Linked DNA regions of Homo sapiens: region 1 is linked to region 2. The links come from fine-mapping of genetic effects on gene expression. Tissue or cell type: whole blood. Region 2 holds a variant in brackets; the other region holds the start of a gene. All regions are shown on one strand. Distances are from middle to middle.

Region 1 (8,095 bases), 130 kb before region 2:
AAGTGCCTGTAATCCCAGCTACTTGGGAGGCTGAGGCAGGAGAATCGCTTGAACCTGGGAGGCAGAGGTTGCAGTGAACCAAGATCATGCCACTGCACTCCAGCTTGGGTGACAGAACAAGACTTGTGTCTCAAAATAAATACATAAAATAAAATAAAATAAAATAAAATAAAATAAAATAAAATAAAGTGAATAGTTCCATGAATCCCCCTGCCCTAGGATCTACTAAACAAAGAACTTTCTTTGTTAAGGTTTTCCACTGACAATGATTTCAAGAGCGAAGGGAAGTATTCAAAAGTCTACGCTTTGAGGACACAGAAGAAAATGTACCCTCAGCTCACCTTTGCTCCAGTCCATGAGAGAGATATGAGGAAAGATGGTAAGCTCCTCTCTTTCAAAGCAAAGGCTTACTGGACTGAGATTTGGGCTGGAGATACAATCCATGAGGATTATAGATGTGGCAAACTGGCTTCTCTCGTGGTAGTCCTGGAGACTATTTTTCCCTATAGCATGGAAGTTAACAACAAATAGAGGCTCAAAAGGTGCAAAGCTCTGGACCCTGTTTAAATCCTCAAATTTCAAGAAAGCTCTAGCAGTGTTTACTAAGCTATATCACCCAGCACTTTAATAGTTTTTGCCATATTGATGTATTATTTGCTGTTAATTTACTTAGCATTTTTTAAAAGGATTTTTAAAAAATCTTGTCCTAATTAATACTATATCATTGATATCATGGTTTTGATGTACAAATTATATGCTTTTCTGAAACACTTATATCAAATTTATAATAATGAAATTTTAAAATGTTTATCTATGTACCACCTAGAACCACCCAGTGGTATGCATATTATACTTTGAAGAAAAAACTGCTCTAAAAGGGCCAAAGGATAAGTCTGTGTGTCTTAGAGGTACAAAAGTCTCTGGGATTGGGGTAGGGAATGGGGTAGAAGGGGCTTGGAATAAGGTTGTATGGCAGAGGGTACAATGAGAATCCTCCTCACATATTATCATTTATTTAACAGTATTTCAAGGGTTCCTACTAAGTGTCTGACACTTACCAAGCACCAACAATATCACTTTCAATATGTGAAAGAGATGAAACAGATCATAAAAGGCCTTGACAGGCTGGGCGTGTCCGTAATCCTAGCAGTTTGGGAGGCTGGGGCAGGAGGATTGCTGGAGGCCAGGGGCTTGACACTAGCCTGGGCAACATAGTGAGATCCTGTCTCTACAAAAAATAATTTAAAAAAATTTAACAGGGTGTGGCGGCATGCACCTGTAGTCTGAGCTACTTGGGGGGCTTGAGGAAGGAGGATTGCTTGAACCTAGGAGTTCAAGGTTGCAGTTAGCTGTGATTATGCCATTGCACTCCAGCCTGGGTAACAGAGTGAGACCCTGTCTGAAAAACAAACAAACAACAATAACAAGAAATCGAAAATACCACAATGCCTTAAATATTATTTAAATAAAGGTTTGGGTTTTATCCAGTAGGCAGTTTGGACCCAATGAAGAATTTCAGGGCACTGAGTACACATTTGTGTATTAGATATATATAATTGGTGGGTCCTCAGACTTCACCAGCTCATGGTTTTAAGATAAGGTCCATTTCTCCTACTGGGTTTCTCTCCTCAAACAATTCCTGAGACTCCCTAAGGTATCCTTGCCTGTCCCACAAAGCCATTGCAGTGATTGCTCAACCCGTCTGCCAGCCATCCTCAGTCCAAATAGTCCTGATACCGAAGGCCTGGGGTCATATTATACCATCCCTTAACTGGCTTCTTCAGGCTTCTCTGCTCCTGCTATACCTATCTGCCACCACATCCCATCCCATTTCCACCTACTGATGCTCTTAACTCCGTAAATACTGCACAGCTAAAAACAACCTGTGGTATTAAACAAAACTTCATAGATATACAGAAAAGCTGAAGAACAGCAGAGAATGATTGATCTTGCTTTACAAGGGGCTAGTCTTAGGGTCAGCCCCAAATCTGAACTCAGGTCCTTCTACTTCTCAGCAGGTCTCCGGGGCATTACCCACCTTGAGAACCTCTGGGCCTATTATCTACACTGTCTCTGCCTAGGTTCCCAATACCCTTGGGCCAAGGAAGAGGAAGAGGATGTTTCCTTCCCCAAAGCCTGTTTATTTTCACCCCCAGAATAAATGAGTGCAGACTTCTATTTCCTTCAAAGAAAACTCCACCTACAAAGTATGACTTGACCTTTACAAGCCATATAAAGCAAACATAGTAGTTAATAGTACATTTAGTCAAGTCGGAGTTAAATCTTAAATGATACCATATGTAGGATATCAACAGTTCATCTTAAATCTGTATTTCAGGGAAAGAATTTCTCTAGGATGTAGAATGTAATCTAGGTTAGAATTTCTCTAATTTTGCAGGGGCACGATCCTGTTGAGTATAGACCCAATTTACATTTCTAAACAAGTTATGCCAGTGAAGCCAAAGGCAGACAAAGTTTCTTAGCTACACTCTTAGACAAGAGAACAGAAAGCCAGCATACACTCTGAGAAAAAGAGGAACATGAGTTAGGAATGAATGCACGTTAATTTAGTGAGTTTCTTAAGTGTCAATATGGTTTCAGATGGAATCATTGAAAGAAATAGGCTTGAACAAGGAAGACTCTAAACTGGCAATGAATTTTCCACTGGGTTTTGATGAAATGAAGGAATCCAAAAATTATAAAATAGGTTGGGAATGGTATTACACGGTCCAAAATCTACCCTCTAAAGACCAGCCTCTGGTCCCTCCAAGTGCGTCTCCTTTACATCTCACATTAAGTATCCTTCGAGTACTTCTGAAAAGCCACATTCACCAGGGTGCCTGTGCTTTGTCGTAGCTTCCAAGAAGTCAGCGAGTGAAAGGCCAATTTCCAAAGTGATTCGGGAACCACTGACACTCGCATCGCTCTTGGAAGACATGCCCACCAGAACCGCGCCCGGGGAGAGCGCCTTCCGCAACGGGAGGGCCCCGCAGTGGATTATCAAAAAGGCCACGGTCATCGGGTGAACACAGACCCCTCAGTCCTCCCGCCTCGCTCTCTTGAGACTGAGGGGTCCGCAGAAGTCGCCACCCAAATAAAACCACATTCCTGCTGCTGCGGGCGTGGGCTCCCGGGTCGCAAGCCGGGAGGGTCGAGCCGAAGTCTCCGGCGGGCCGCAAGAGGAGAAGGGGGCGTGGCTGCGTCCCGGGGGCCGAGGGCGGCCGGGGAGGGCGGGCCTTGGCCCCGAGTGAAGGCGCGGCGGCCCAACCGGCGTGAGAGCGCGGGGCCGGCCTTCCTGCAGCCTCTTCCGCTCGCCGGCTGCGGCGCCTGGGACGGTTGCGGTGGGTCTGGGCGCTGGGAAGTCGTCCAAGATGATTAAAAAATTCGACAAGAAGGACGAGGAGTCTGGTACGCGCGGGGCTTCCGAGGCCCACCCTCAGCCGCGGGACGCCCCTTCCCCCGCCCGCCGCCACCTGCTTTCAGGCCGGCGGGGCTGGGGGCGTGGGCGCCGCCGTGCCAGGGGGCCGGAGCTGGAGCCGGCCCCTCCCCTCCCCTCGCGGCTGCCCGGGGCCTGCCCGTAGCCCCTCCCCCGGGCGCCGGAGCCTCCCTTCGGGCCGCGCGCTCCCGCCCCGGCGCCCGCGCGCGCCCCGTTCCCGCCCCTCTTGCGGCGCAGCCCCTCCGAGCCGCCTCCTCCCCTGCGCGCGGGCCTCCGGCGGGGGCCGAGGGCGTGCGCGCGTCTCCGCGTCCAGGGGTGCTGGTAGGGTCGGACCCCTAGTGGGAGCACCCTGTTCCCGGGGCTGGGGTCGACGGCACAGGGTGTGTGTGGAGGAACGTTCAGGTGCCTGGTACCTTATCGTTTTCCTGGGGTCACCGGCTCTGTCCAGGTCCCCGGGGGCAAGACTGTCCCGTGGGACACAGCTCGTTGAATGCTCAGGTGTCCAGAAGTGACCTGCGTCTTGATGCCCGTCTTTGGTCCAGAGCAAATGGGGAAGATGCCAAGCATCCTCAAAAAGAAAAAAATTCTCAGTGTTTGGTAGCATCTCCCACAGTGTGAGAGGGGGTTGGGTTAGTCAACCTCCATGGCCTCTTGCACCTTTACGCCTGCATGATTCTCTGGGAAACTTCGTTTCTGCCTCTCCTTAAGTGTTAGAAACACATAAAATACTGCTTACCTAAGGAAATCAAAAGCACCCTACTACAATCTCATTAATCTTCGTTGTTGTGGAAATGACACATTTTTAACATTCATGGAAAAAGAGGGCAGGGAAAGAAGACACTCATTTTGGAGAGGGTTGCTGCGAAAGAGAAGTCTCAGCTCTTCGAGTATGGCAGTGACAGAGCCGGGATCAAAATGATTTCATTCAGTTCGTATGCGTATTAGCCATGATTATCACTGTGCCATCCAAGTGTTCACTTCCCAAGCATTCAGTACCCTTCTCTGGAAAGTATATAAGTTTGTGTAGAACAGCTGTTCAGGACATTTTTTTGTTTTGTTTTATAAATAGGTAGTGGCTCCAATCCTTTCCAGCATCTGGAGAAGAGTGCTGTTTTACAGGAGGTATGACTGGGAAGTATCTTGTGCCCTTTCTTTTCTATTCTGTTTTAGAGTGGTGGGCAGAGAATCCCTGGGCTGCTGTGATCACGACATGCAAAACAAGAAACGTAACAGAGTTTAGGGAATATAGATTTGAGGGAAAAGAAAGAGGGGTTACTTGTCACAGGAGAATTTGGAGCTTATAGAAATGCAAAGACATGAAGACTGTCACAGGTTGGGAATTTTAAATGTAAGAACAGGTGTTTAGTGCAAGGTTATTGAAATCAGTTATCTGTATTAATCTCATTGTATTAGTATGATATAGATAAGTATTGTGATCCTTATTTAACTGGTATAGCCCATAAAGTTGAAGTAGTCAACCTAAGGGAATGAGAAAGTATAGGATGGAAAATCAAGGCCACGTGTAATAATTTATCAGATACCTTAGTAAATTGAGAACTATAGACAATGTTCTTTGGATACCGTGATTAAAAATAGTCTGTATTAAAGTTGATTTGCTATAATCTGTGATAGAAAAGGTAGAAAAGTAGCAATGTTTTTTATGTTTTTTCATAGGCTCGTATATTCAATGAAACTCCAATCAATCCAAGAAGATGTTTGCATATTCTTACAAAGATTCTTTACTTACTGAACCAGGTATATTATTTTTATTTTCCTCAGATAAGTGTGTCCTGGAATAGAAATACTGAAGATTCAGTGAAATACTTTCTGGAAAGTATATTTATTTATTTTAAATTCACTTAATTTTAACATATACAACGTTTGGTTAACAAAATAATATGTAAAACTTGAGTACGAGGACTATGACATATACAGGTTGAGTATACCTTCTTTGCAATGCTCGGAACCAGAAGTGTTTTGGATTTCAGATTTTTTTGGATTTTGGAATATTTGCAGAATACATACTCACTGACTATTGCTAATCTGAGTATCTGAAATCCAGAATGCTCTGATGAGTGTCTCCACTGAGTGTTATATTGGCACTCAAAAAATTTCTGATTTTGGAGCATTTCAGATTTTGGATTTTGAGATTAGAGATGTTTAACCTATACTTCCTTTTTATTCATGAGATCCTAAACCAGTGATGCGCATAGTAGATTCTCAATAAATCCTTTGGTTTCAATTTAATGAGTACTAGTTAGAGCATGTTGTTTACATGTATTTGGAGATCTTCATGTTTTTCTGAAAATACAGTGCAAGATCAGGCAAATTCCAGATATTTTCTTTTTTATGTGTGTAATGATGTTTTAAAGCTTTGATTGTTAATATTCAGATTTTATATTTATTATCCCTATGCTACCATTACTAGCAGAATAATTCTGGGCAGTAGCTTAACCATTTTATGTGCCTTGATGTCCTTTTCTCTACATGGGGATTATGATAATACCTGTTACAGAGTTGTAATGACTAAATGAGATAATTAGTGTAAAGCACTGAGAATAGTCCTGAACATACAGTAAGCATTCAGGAATAGTTTTCCTTCCGTCATTCAGCAAATATTTATTGCGTAGCTGCTGTGTGCTGTGCACTGTTTTAGGTGTTGGGGATATAGCAGACAAACCAGCAAAAATATTTGCGCTCATGAAATGTAGATTCTGCTTGCTGCTGTTGTTATTAATTTTTCTTTTCTTTTTCTTTTTTTTTTTTTTGCCCCAGACTTAAAAAAAACTCATGAAATGTCTAGGGCCTTAGAAAATATGATTTTGTTTCATGGATTCATATTCCCTCAGTATCAGTGGGGAATTGGTTCCAGGACCTCCATTGGATACTAAAGTCCATAGATGCTCAAGTCCCTCATACAAATGGTGTAGTATTTGCATATAACCTACACATATCCTCCCATATATAAGTTGTCTCTGTGATTATAATACTTAGACTATAATCTCTAGATTACAATACCTGGTGCAATGTTAGTGCTGTGTAAATAGTTGTTGTGCTGTATTGTTTAGGGAATAATGACAAAAAACCATCTGTACGTGTTCAGTACAAACATAGTTTTTTTTTTCCTTGAATATTTTCAATCTGAGCCTGGTTGAATCCACAGATTCAGAACTCATGGTTATGGAGGGCTGACTATATATGTCTATACACATACAGACGGACACATAAAACATACATATATACCATATACCTCAGGTGGTTTACATATGGTGCTAAGATAACCATGGTTTCCAATTTGAATTCTAAGAGAATATATTATCTTTACTTTGTTTTGTGACTGAAGACCTCACTCAGAGATTTAATAAAGTTTTCTTGTTTACAAATGAAGACTAAGCAACAAGCACATAGATTTTTTTTATTTTTTGAGATGGAGTCTCGCTCTGTTACCAGGCTGGAGTGCAGTGGCGCAATCTCGGCTCACTACAACCTCCACCTCCCTGGTTCAAGCAATTCTCCTACTTTAGCCTCCTGAGTAGCTGGGATTACAGGCATGCACCACCACGCCTGGCTAATTTTTATATTTTTAGTAGAGACGGGGTTTCACCATATTGGCCAGGTGGGTCTCAAACTCCTGACCTTAGGTGATCCGCCCACCTCAGCTTCCCAAAGTCCTGGGATTACAGGTGTGAGCTACTGTGCCTGATCATCAAACACATAGTTTTAAATAAAATATATCTGTTCACAAACAACATAATCCCTCTGTGTCAGCATATGAGAAACATTTAAAGCATAGTCAATTGGGTTTAACTTTTCATAGCACACATTGTGTCTAAGTTGGCCAAATCCATTGTATAAACAAAAGTTTTGAATAGTCAAAGTTGATTGAGAGTAACATGTATTTTTATGTTGGTCATTACCTCTTCAATGAGGCAACTCATGTTGAAACATTTAATTATCTTGATAAGGAAATTACCAAGCACAGCATAAACACAATTAACTATATAAACAGGTTTGGGAACATAAATTTTATCTCTTTGCCTAGAACTTGGTAGAGCTTTATAGAAAGATACTTTTGAATTTCTATGAGAGTTGACATATCCATGTGTTTTCTGAGTTTCAAGTAAAAAAGTAGGATGTAAGGTTTTCCTGTATAACTAAAAAGCACACAGACTTCTGGGTATTCAGTAAATAGTTGTGAAAGAAAGATAAATCTCATGCTGATGAGCAGGCTGGATACACTGATTTAAGTAAGTATAAACTTATTGTACTTTGTCTTTTATCCTAAACTGTCAGTATTTTTCACCAAAATTTATTCTTATACCTATGGCAAATAGATTGAAGACTAGTTATATTTTATGTGGAATCTGAAGCTCTGAAAAGTGATTGAGTGTAACGTATTATATAAGATTGCTTTTAGTGAAGACATTAAATATTGAAATGGTAATATTTGAGGTAATCTATGATTTGAGATGTTTTGAAATACGTTATCTAACACTTTTTCACTGCTCAGAAAATGTAGTTCCCAGATCAGCATTTGCATCACTTGTTAGAAATGCCAAATCTCAGGCCAGGCGCAGTGGCTCAAGCCTGTAATCCCAGCACTTTGGGAGGCCGAGGCAGGTGGATCACGAGGTCAGGAGTTCAAGACCAGCCTGGCCA
Region 2 (8,104 bases):
CCAGTCTCAACCTGACTCTCCTGCCCTGCCTGAGACCCAGCTCCTCTGCTCCTCCTGGGTGCTCCTGTCAGTCCCACCCTCCTCCCACCTCCTCCCTCCTCCTTAAGGCCCATGTCTTCAAGACGCTCTCCTTCCACACTGTCTCCATTTCCCTTTGCACCTTCCCTCCCCGTGACAACAGATCCCCTGCTCTCTGCTCTCACCCGCACAGCCCACTTCCTCTGTGTCACTGGGCCCCTATCTTGGCCTCACTCCTCCACCTGAGTCCTCGAGTCTCGGACCGAGGCGCTGGAAATCCCAGCTCCACCACCATGGTCCCGGTGCCTTTTCGGCTACATCCATTTGCTCGCTGTCATCCTTGTCCTGGTCTGTCGGGAACTGTGTTCCCACACCTGACAGTCTTGACCCTGATGCCTCCATCAGCCCCGCTGCACGTGCATCTTCCCCTCACATTGTACATGTCTGTCCGGCTCTCCATCCTCCCGCGTCCACCAGTGATTCTCACCCGAGGATGCAGGACCCCGAGGAAGCCTATCAGAAGCATCTTTTGGGCTGGGTTTCTTCTTTTGCTGTTATCTGTGTTCCTTTTAGAGATTGTTTTTTTCCCTTACTTTTTCTGAGCTGAACACTGCTCACCCCTCTGATGATTGGATAGGCCTGCCTGGGGGTCCATGTCCCCAGCCCTCCCTCGGGTGAAACCCACCCCTCAACCCCAGATAAGAATCACTGCTGTGGACGGCCACCTTGACTCCCTGGCCTTTACTCTCCTATTTCTAGCATTTAGTATTTTGGTATTTCCAGGTACACTTCCTACTCATAAGACCAGCATTTCCCTCCCCCTGCCCAACAGTCCTGGCACTCTCCACTTGGAACCACCTCATTGTCTGCCCCATTTACCCCTTAACACACATCGTGCCCAAAAGCCCAGTCTGCATGAGAGAGTTGCGCTTCTGACACCTCCACACCCCACCCTTTATGCCCTGACCCATCTAATATGACTCCCAGGCACTCAGTTAATACCTTTGGCCTCAATCTAATTTTCGTAGGCCCTTACTACTGACATTTTTCCTTCATCATCCCTCCTCTTTTCATATCACTGACCAGGTGCCCCCAGAGAGACTTCCCATTTGGTGGTCATCATCCTGTTTGTTTCCCAGAAACCAGCCCTTTACCTTAACCTTTTACCCTTCCTGAGCTACTCTGTTTTTTCTTCTTTTGCCGGACTCAGATGTCTTCTCTAGCCTGTATTCATCAACCTCAACACTCAACATGTAATTGTCCACCAGCTCAGATGAATGAGATGGTGTTCTCAATGCCTACAGCTTGGCCCACTTCACCCCACCCCAACCCCTCCCCCAGTCCCAGTCCCACTGCCCCTAACCCTGCCCCACCCATTCATCCCATACCCAAACCCCACCCCAAACCCCATCCCCTCCACCCAGCCCACCCTTCCCTGCCGGATCCGTAGTAAAGAGCCTGGCCCAAGATTCACACCTGTGCAACAAAGTTCAAGGCTTTAAGAGCAGCCATTCCTTCCTGCCCATTGCTGTCCACCCCTTTCACACTTTCCCTTCCCCATGCCGAACCTTGCAGGCTGCCCTGAGCACTCCACATTCCTTGGTTCCTACTCTGGGACCTCCCCCTTCACCTCGCTTCACCTGTGGCTGTCCTGCTTATGGCTGTCCTGCCCAGCTCCCTTCCACCACGCTTTCTGCCCTCCATCCTTCCCTGGAGGCCCCTCCACCCTGTCTGTCTTCTGTAGGTGACTCCCCTGTCGGCGCTGCCTCATTGTCCCACTTCCACATTCTTTCTTGAAGCCTTTCCCCTTGCATCCACATTTCTTCTCTTTGCTTCCTTGGCCAAGGGAAGGTACCTGCCTGTCTGTGGCCAATATTTCTCTCAGCCACCCAGGGCCTGTCGCTTCATCTGACTCAGTCATCTCTTCTCCATAGGGATGTGCTCACTACTTTGACCTGCTCTCCTCACCGCTCAAACTTTTCCATCCTCTCTCTATCCCACCTTCTTTTCAAGAACTGTTTTCTATTGCTCCTCCGGATCTTCCACTGATTCAGGCCAGCGCCTTCCCTTACGGCTGCCTTTTCCTTCCCCTCTTCCACTCCAGCCTTGTTTCCTCTTTTCTCTTTCTGTTCCATGAAGTGAGTTCCTACAAAACTCTATAGCCAGTCCCGCTACTTCCTCCTCTTCCTCCTTTCTTCATCTCCATTATTTCCATTTACCTTGGATAGGGCCCCAGTGAGCCCATGCACCCCTGCCCATATTGCTTGCTATTGTGGCTGTCCAGATCCACCGTTTCCTCTTTCCCTCTTGGCCACACTACCTTTACTACACCTGTGTTTAGGATTTAAGACCTTCTTACACAGGTTCTGGCCTCCGTCCTGTTCTACCTTTCCTCCACTCTTGCCTCCAAGAAAGAATTACCCTTGCCTCTACCCATCTCTGCCACCCTGACTACCACTGGATTTACTCTGTATTGCTGCATCCCCATTTGCTACCGACCTACTTTTCCCACTAATCCTATGATGCTCCACTAGGTATGAAGCCTGTGCCCCCCACCCCCATTGGAGCCTCATGACATCTGTGGATATTTTGCTTCGAAAGCTGCACCTCCATATCTTTCTCCCACTCTTGGATAGCAAAACCAAGGATTAAGTGATTACTGCAAATTGTCTTCTGTGCATTGCTTAGCAGTCCCTCCTCTGCCATTTTATAAGCATCTTTCTCCCCACATGCTGGACTCAAACGATATGAGTCCATCACCAAGTCCCTGAGTTCCCTGCCGGTGGTTTCTGTGGAGGTGCTGTCTTCATGTGCAGTGATTCCTGATGCCCTCTCTGTAACCCCAGTTACTTTGGCCCTTTCCCCCATTTTCTCCTAAGGGCCTCAATTTGCAAAAATGCCCAGGCTCTTGCTTCTTCGATCTGCTCTGCTCTTATGATCTGGCTTTAATACTGCTTATTTCAACAATTTGCACCATGAGGTCTGGCGCACCCCCATTTTGGGAATTCTTTGTTCCATCTTCCTGTTTTCCATGTTGGTTCCTCTATCAAAGCTCAACTCTGCTCCACCCCCCCCACCCCACCCCAATAAATTCATGAGGTTATTTCTCCTCTTACGCCCCTCCTGTCCCTTTCTTTTTCCATCAACATCACTGACCCATCTCACGACCCACATAGTGCCTTCTGACTCCAGACTGGATAAAGTGTGGACCCTTTCACCAGCCATCCTCTGCCTTTTCTTACACTGTTGTCTTTATGAAACCCTCTGATTGGTCTTCAGCATCTAGTCCATGTTCCCTACCACCTCAGGGTCAGTCAGTGCACTCAGGAGTCTTTTCCTTAATGTCTGCTCCCAGCCTGACCTGCCCTCACTGTTGTTGCCACTGCCAGCTTCTTTGTCCCTAACATGCTGTATTCATTCATCTACTGTCTGATTTGAGCTCTGATCATTCTACCTTCTCCGTTCTGCCACTAGGGAGACACTGGTTTCCTCTCTAGATGGCATCCCCCCGACCTTCCTTCCTCTCACCTTCTCCCTCACTGATACATTGTCCCAACATTTCTGAGGTGCCAAACCGCTGCACCCTCCTTCCACTTTGGTCTCCTCCCACCTCTCCCTCATTCTTTGCTTGTCTTACCTGTACCATGATTTCTCCTCCATGGGCTTCTTCATAGACTTTGTAAAGTCTCTGGATTCCCCATGTCTCTCCCTCCTTATTGGTCCTTGGCATAGGACCTCCCACCCCCACCCTTGTGCCCCAACCCCTACACCTTAGAGCTTCAGGCTGTCTCTTTCTCCTTGTGAATATTTTGCTTCACAAGCTACACCTCCATTCATTTCTGCCATTCCTGAACAGCAAAACCAAGGATTTTGATGCAAATTCTCCCTTGCTGGAACATATTCCCTGATCCTCTCAACAAGCTCACCTCTCTAAGCTGCTCGGCTCCATAACCTGCTCCAACTCATTCTTCTTGCCCATTGGGAAACACCTCTCCTCTGTCCTGCTTTTCCACGTGCTGCAAACTCACCCTCTGCTCTCCAAGCTCCCAGCTCCTGGGCCTAGGTTGGTCATTTCTCCTGCTTTCCTCCTCTACTGCATAGCATGGTACTGTCCCACCTGCACCATCCTGCATTCTCTCAGCACGATCTGTGATTCTGCCACTGGCCTAATTCATGTTCTCAGGTGTGTCCTCCTTTCTTGACCAGGCCCCGCACCCACTGCTCCACCAGATGCAGTCATCTCTGCGTCACACGTACTGCACCGAATCCACCTCCTCTGCTGTCCATGCTCACGATCCAGTGGCCAAGGCTATGGGACTTTTCCAGCACACCACAACCCTGACTCCCAGAAGCCTTCCCGATACCTTTCACACCCTTCTCTCTCACACCATGTGGAAACATTCTGGGGAGCCTCTGCCTCTGAATCCCCTGCCTTCTTCCTGTCACCACAGCAGTTTTGTCATCAGCACTCACTCTTATCTCCCCCCACCCTCCTCCTCACATCCACACAAATGCACCCAGTCTCAACCTGACTCTCCTGCCCTGCCTGAGACCCGGCTCCTCCGCTCCACCTGGGTGCTCCTGTCAGTCCCACCCTCCTCCTGCCTCCTCCCTCCTTAGCGCCCATATCTTCAAGACGCTCTCCTTCCACGCTGTCTCCATTCCCCTTTGCGCCTTCCCTCCCCATGACAACAGATCCCCTGCTGTCTGCTCTCACCCGCAC[A/C]GCCCACATCCTCTGTGTCACTGGACCCTTCTCTGGGCCTCACTCCTCCACCTGAGTCCTCCAGTCTGGGACCGAGGCGTTGGAAACCCCAGCTGCACCACCGTGGTCCCATTGCCTTTGCAGCTACATCCATTTGTTTGCTGTCATCCTTGTCCTGGTCTGTCGGGAACTATGTTCCCACACCTGACAGTCTTGACCCTGATGCCTCCATCAACCCTGCTGCACGTGCGTCTTCCCCTCTCACTCTACATGTCTGCCCGGCTCTCCATCCTCCCGTGTCCACCAGTGATTCTCACCCGAGGATGCAGGACCCCAAGGCGGCCTATCAGAGGCATCTTTTGGGCTCGGTTTTCTCTTTCGCTATTGTCTGCGTTCATTTTAGAGATTGATTTTTTCCCTTACTTTTTCTGAGCTGAACACTGCTTACCCCTCAGATGATTGGATAGGCCTGCCTGGGGGTCCGTGCCCCCAGCCCTCCCTCGGGTGAAACCCACCCCCCCATCCCAGATAAGAATCACTGCTGTGGACGGCCACCTTGACTCCCTGCGACCACCTTGGTTCCCTGCACTTCAGTCTCTCCAGTTTCAGGCCTGGAGCATTCTAGTGCTTTCCTTTAACTTCTTAATCAAATATCTCAGCATTTCCTCCTCTGCCCCTCTCAAATAGGCCTGGCACTCTCCACGTGGAACTACCGCATTCCCTTCCTTATTTTCTCTCTGAAATACAACATAGGTGGAATCCCACTCTTTGTGAGAGTTGTTCTTTCAGTGCCTCCCACCCCACCCTTTGTGCCCCTCCCTGCCACCTGATAGGACTCTCAGGTACTCTGTCCTTACCTTTGGCCTCCACCTGTTCTTCTGGGTGTTGACTATTGTCCCTTTTCCTTAATCACCACTTTTGTGGTAAGGTGCCCCCCTCTAAGAGACTTCCCTTTTGATCCACATAATCCTTTTTGTTTGTAAGAATCCAGCCCCTTACCTTGACCTTGCACCCTACGTGAGGCTACTTTCTTTTTTCCCTGGATTCAGGGTCTTCCCTAGCCTGAATTCATCACCCTCAACCCTGAACATATATAATCTATCAGTTAAATACAGTGGTGTTCTCAATGCTGGGGGCTTGGCTCAACATACCCCACTCCCCACCCCCCACCCACCCTGATTCCCTCTCCCCATGCCCTGCCCCACTCCCACCATTCCCAACCCTGCCCTCCCATGCAACCCCCACCCAAACCCCATCCCCAACCCAGACCCAAACCCCACCCCGAACCCCATCCCCACCACCCACCCTTCCCCACCGGATCCGTAGTAAAGAGCCTGGCCCAAGATTCACACCTTTGCAACAAAGTTCAAGGCTTTAAAAACAGCCATTCCTTCCTGTCTATTGCTGTCCACCCCTTTTACACTTTCCGTTCCCTATGCCGAACCTTGCAGGCTGCTCTGAGCACTCCAAATTCCTTTGTTCCTACTCTGGGACCTGCCCCTTCACCTCACTCCACCTGTGGCTGTCCTGCCCAGCTCCCTTCCACCACTCTTTCTGCCCTCCATCCTTCCCTGGGGGCCCCTCCACCCTGTCTGTCTTCTGTAGGTGACTCCCCTGTTGCACTGCCTCATCGTCCCACTTCCACATTCTTTCTTGAAGCCTTTCCCCTTGCGTCCACATTTCTTCTCCTTGCTTCCTTGGCCAGGGGAAGGTACCTGCCTGTCTGTGGCCCATATTTCTCTCAACCACCCAGGGCCTATTGCTTCATCGGGCTCAGTCATCTCTTCTCCATAGGGATGTGCTCACTACTTTGACCTGCTCTCACTGCTCAAACTTTTCCATCCTCTCTCTATCCCACCTTCTCTTCAAGAACTGTTTTCTGTTGCTCCTCCAGATCTTCCACTGATTCAGGCTAGCGCCTTCCCTTAGGCTGCCTTTTCCTTCCCTTCTTCCACTCAAGCCTTTTCTCCTCTTCTTTCTTTCTGTTCCATCAAGAAGGCTCCCACAAAACTCCACAGCCAGTCCCGCCACTTCCTTCTCTTCCTCATTTCCTCACCTCCTTTATTTCCATTTACCTCAGATGCAGCCCCAGTGAGCCGATGCACCCCTGCCATCGTGCCTGCCCATCTGCTCCCCATCAAGCCCATCTGGATCCATTTCCTCTTAGCCACACTACCCTCACTACACCCATGTTTACAGTTTAAGACTTCTTCTTACACAGGTCTTGCCCTCCATCCTGTTCTACCTTTCCTCCTCTCTTGCTCTCTACCTTGCGTCTTCCAAACATGAAGCCCTCATCCCAGCACCCGACACCCTGACCCTCTCCAAACTCTGGGCATACTCTCTCCCACTGGGCCCATTTGCTACTGACCTAAACATCTCCCACTTAACTTTTGAAGGCCCTCCTCCTCAGCTTCACTATGAACCTCTGCGTATATTTTGCATTACAAGCTATACCTCCATCCTTTCAGCCACCCTTAAACAGCAGAAACGTGGATTCAGTGATTGTTGCAAATTGTCTCCATCGCATTATGTCCTAACAGCTCCTCTGGCCTTTGCAAACACACTTCTACCTACAATCTGGGATCAGTCTGCTTGAGTCCACTGTGAAGTCCCTAAAGTTACCTGTCTGTGGTTTTTATGCAGGTGCCATGTTAGTGTGCAGTGCTGACCAGCTTCCTTTGTTTAACCAATCACTTTGGCCCTTAACCCACTTTCTCCTAAAGGCTGCTGGAGCTATTGCTTCATTCTGCCTCTGTGGTCTGGTCTTAATACCAGGCATACCACCAACGTATCCTGAGATCTGCGGACACCTCAGTTTGGGACTCTGAATTCTGCCTCCCCTCTATTCACTTGGCCCCTTTACCAATGTTGAGACCCTCAAATTCATGAGATTCTCCCCCTATCATGCACCTTCTGTCCTTTTTTATGTCCATCAACTTCCTGGACCCATCTTGAGTCTGACATCATGCCTTGAGGACTTTAGAGCAGTTTCTGTTTTTCTAGTTAAGATGTACTGCACATCCCCCTACTGTTATTTTCCAGAGACCCTCAGCTTCATCTTCAGCATCCACTCCCTCCTCTGCCACTTTCTAAGTCAATGACTGCACTCTGCAGTCATTTCCTTGATGTCAGCTCCCTTCCTGCCCTGCCCTTGCTGCTGCCAACATTGCCATCCTTTTTATCCACAATATGCAGCATTGGATCCATCTGCTATCTTAAGGCACCCTTAACCGTCCTACATTTTTGGTTCTACTATGCTGGAGACAATTGTTTCCTGTCTCAAAGTCAATCCACCTGACATTTCATCAGTTCCCATGCCCTTCATTGACACTGTGGTGCCCAGCTTTTCCAAGGTGCCAGCATCTTCTACATCCTCCTTGT

The links. PIP is the estimated chance that this variant, and not a neighbour inherited with it, causes the effect.
Region 1: COPG2 starts here. The variant in region 2 is fine-mapped to the expression of COPG2 in whole blood (TOPMed, PIP above 0.99).

What each region holds. Positions count from the first base shown.
Region 1 is chr7:130,663,945-130,672,039 of GRCh38, reverse strand. It overlaps COPG2 (coat protein complex I subunit gamma 2), which reads left to right and starts at 3,292. Exons shown (of 24, transcript NM_012133.6): 1 at 3,292-3,408; 2 at 4,506-4,558; 3 at 5,111-5,191. The coding sequence starts at 3,372. TSGA13 (testis specific 13) reads left to right here. Exons shown (of 8, transcript NM_052933.4): 7 at 252-379; 8 at 2,857-3,397. The coding sequence ends at 3,026. RefSeq lists silencers at 2,920-3,029, 3,120-3,709 and an enhancer at 3,980-4,089.
Region 2 is chr7:130,528,976-130,537,079 of GRCh38, reverse strand. The region is part of intron 20 of COPG2 (coat protein complex I subunit gamma 2); the gene reads left to right. Among named protein-coding and RNA genes, the nearest start is that of COPG2IT1, 10 kb to the left of the region's middle. The variant A/C (reference allele first, on the strand shown) is at 4,742.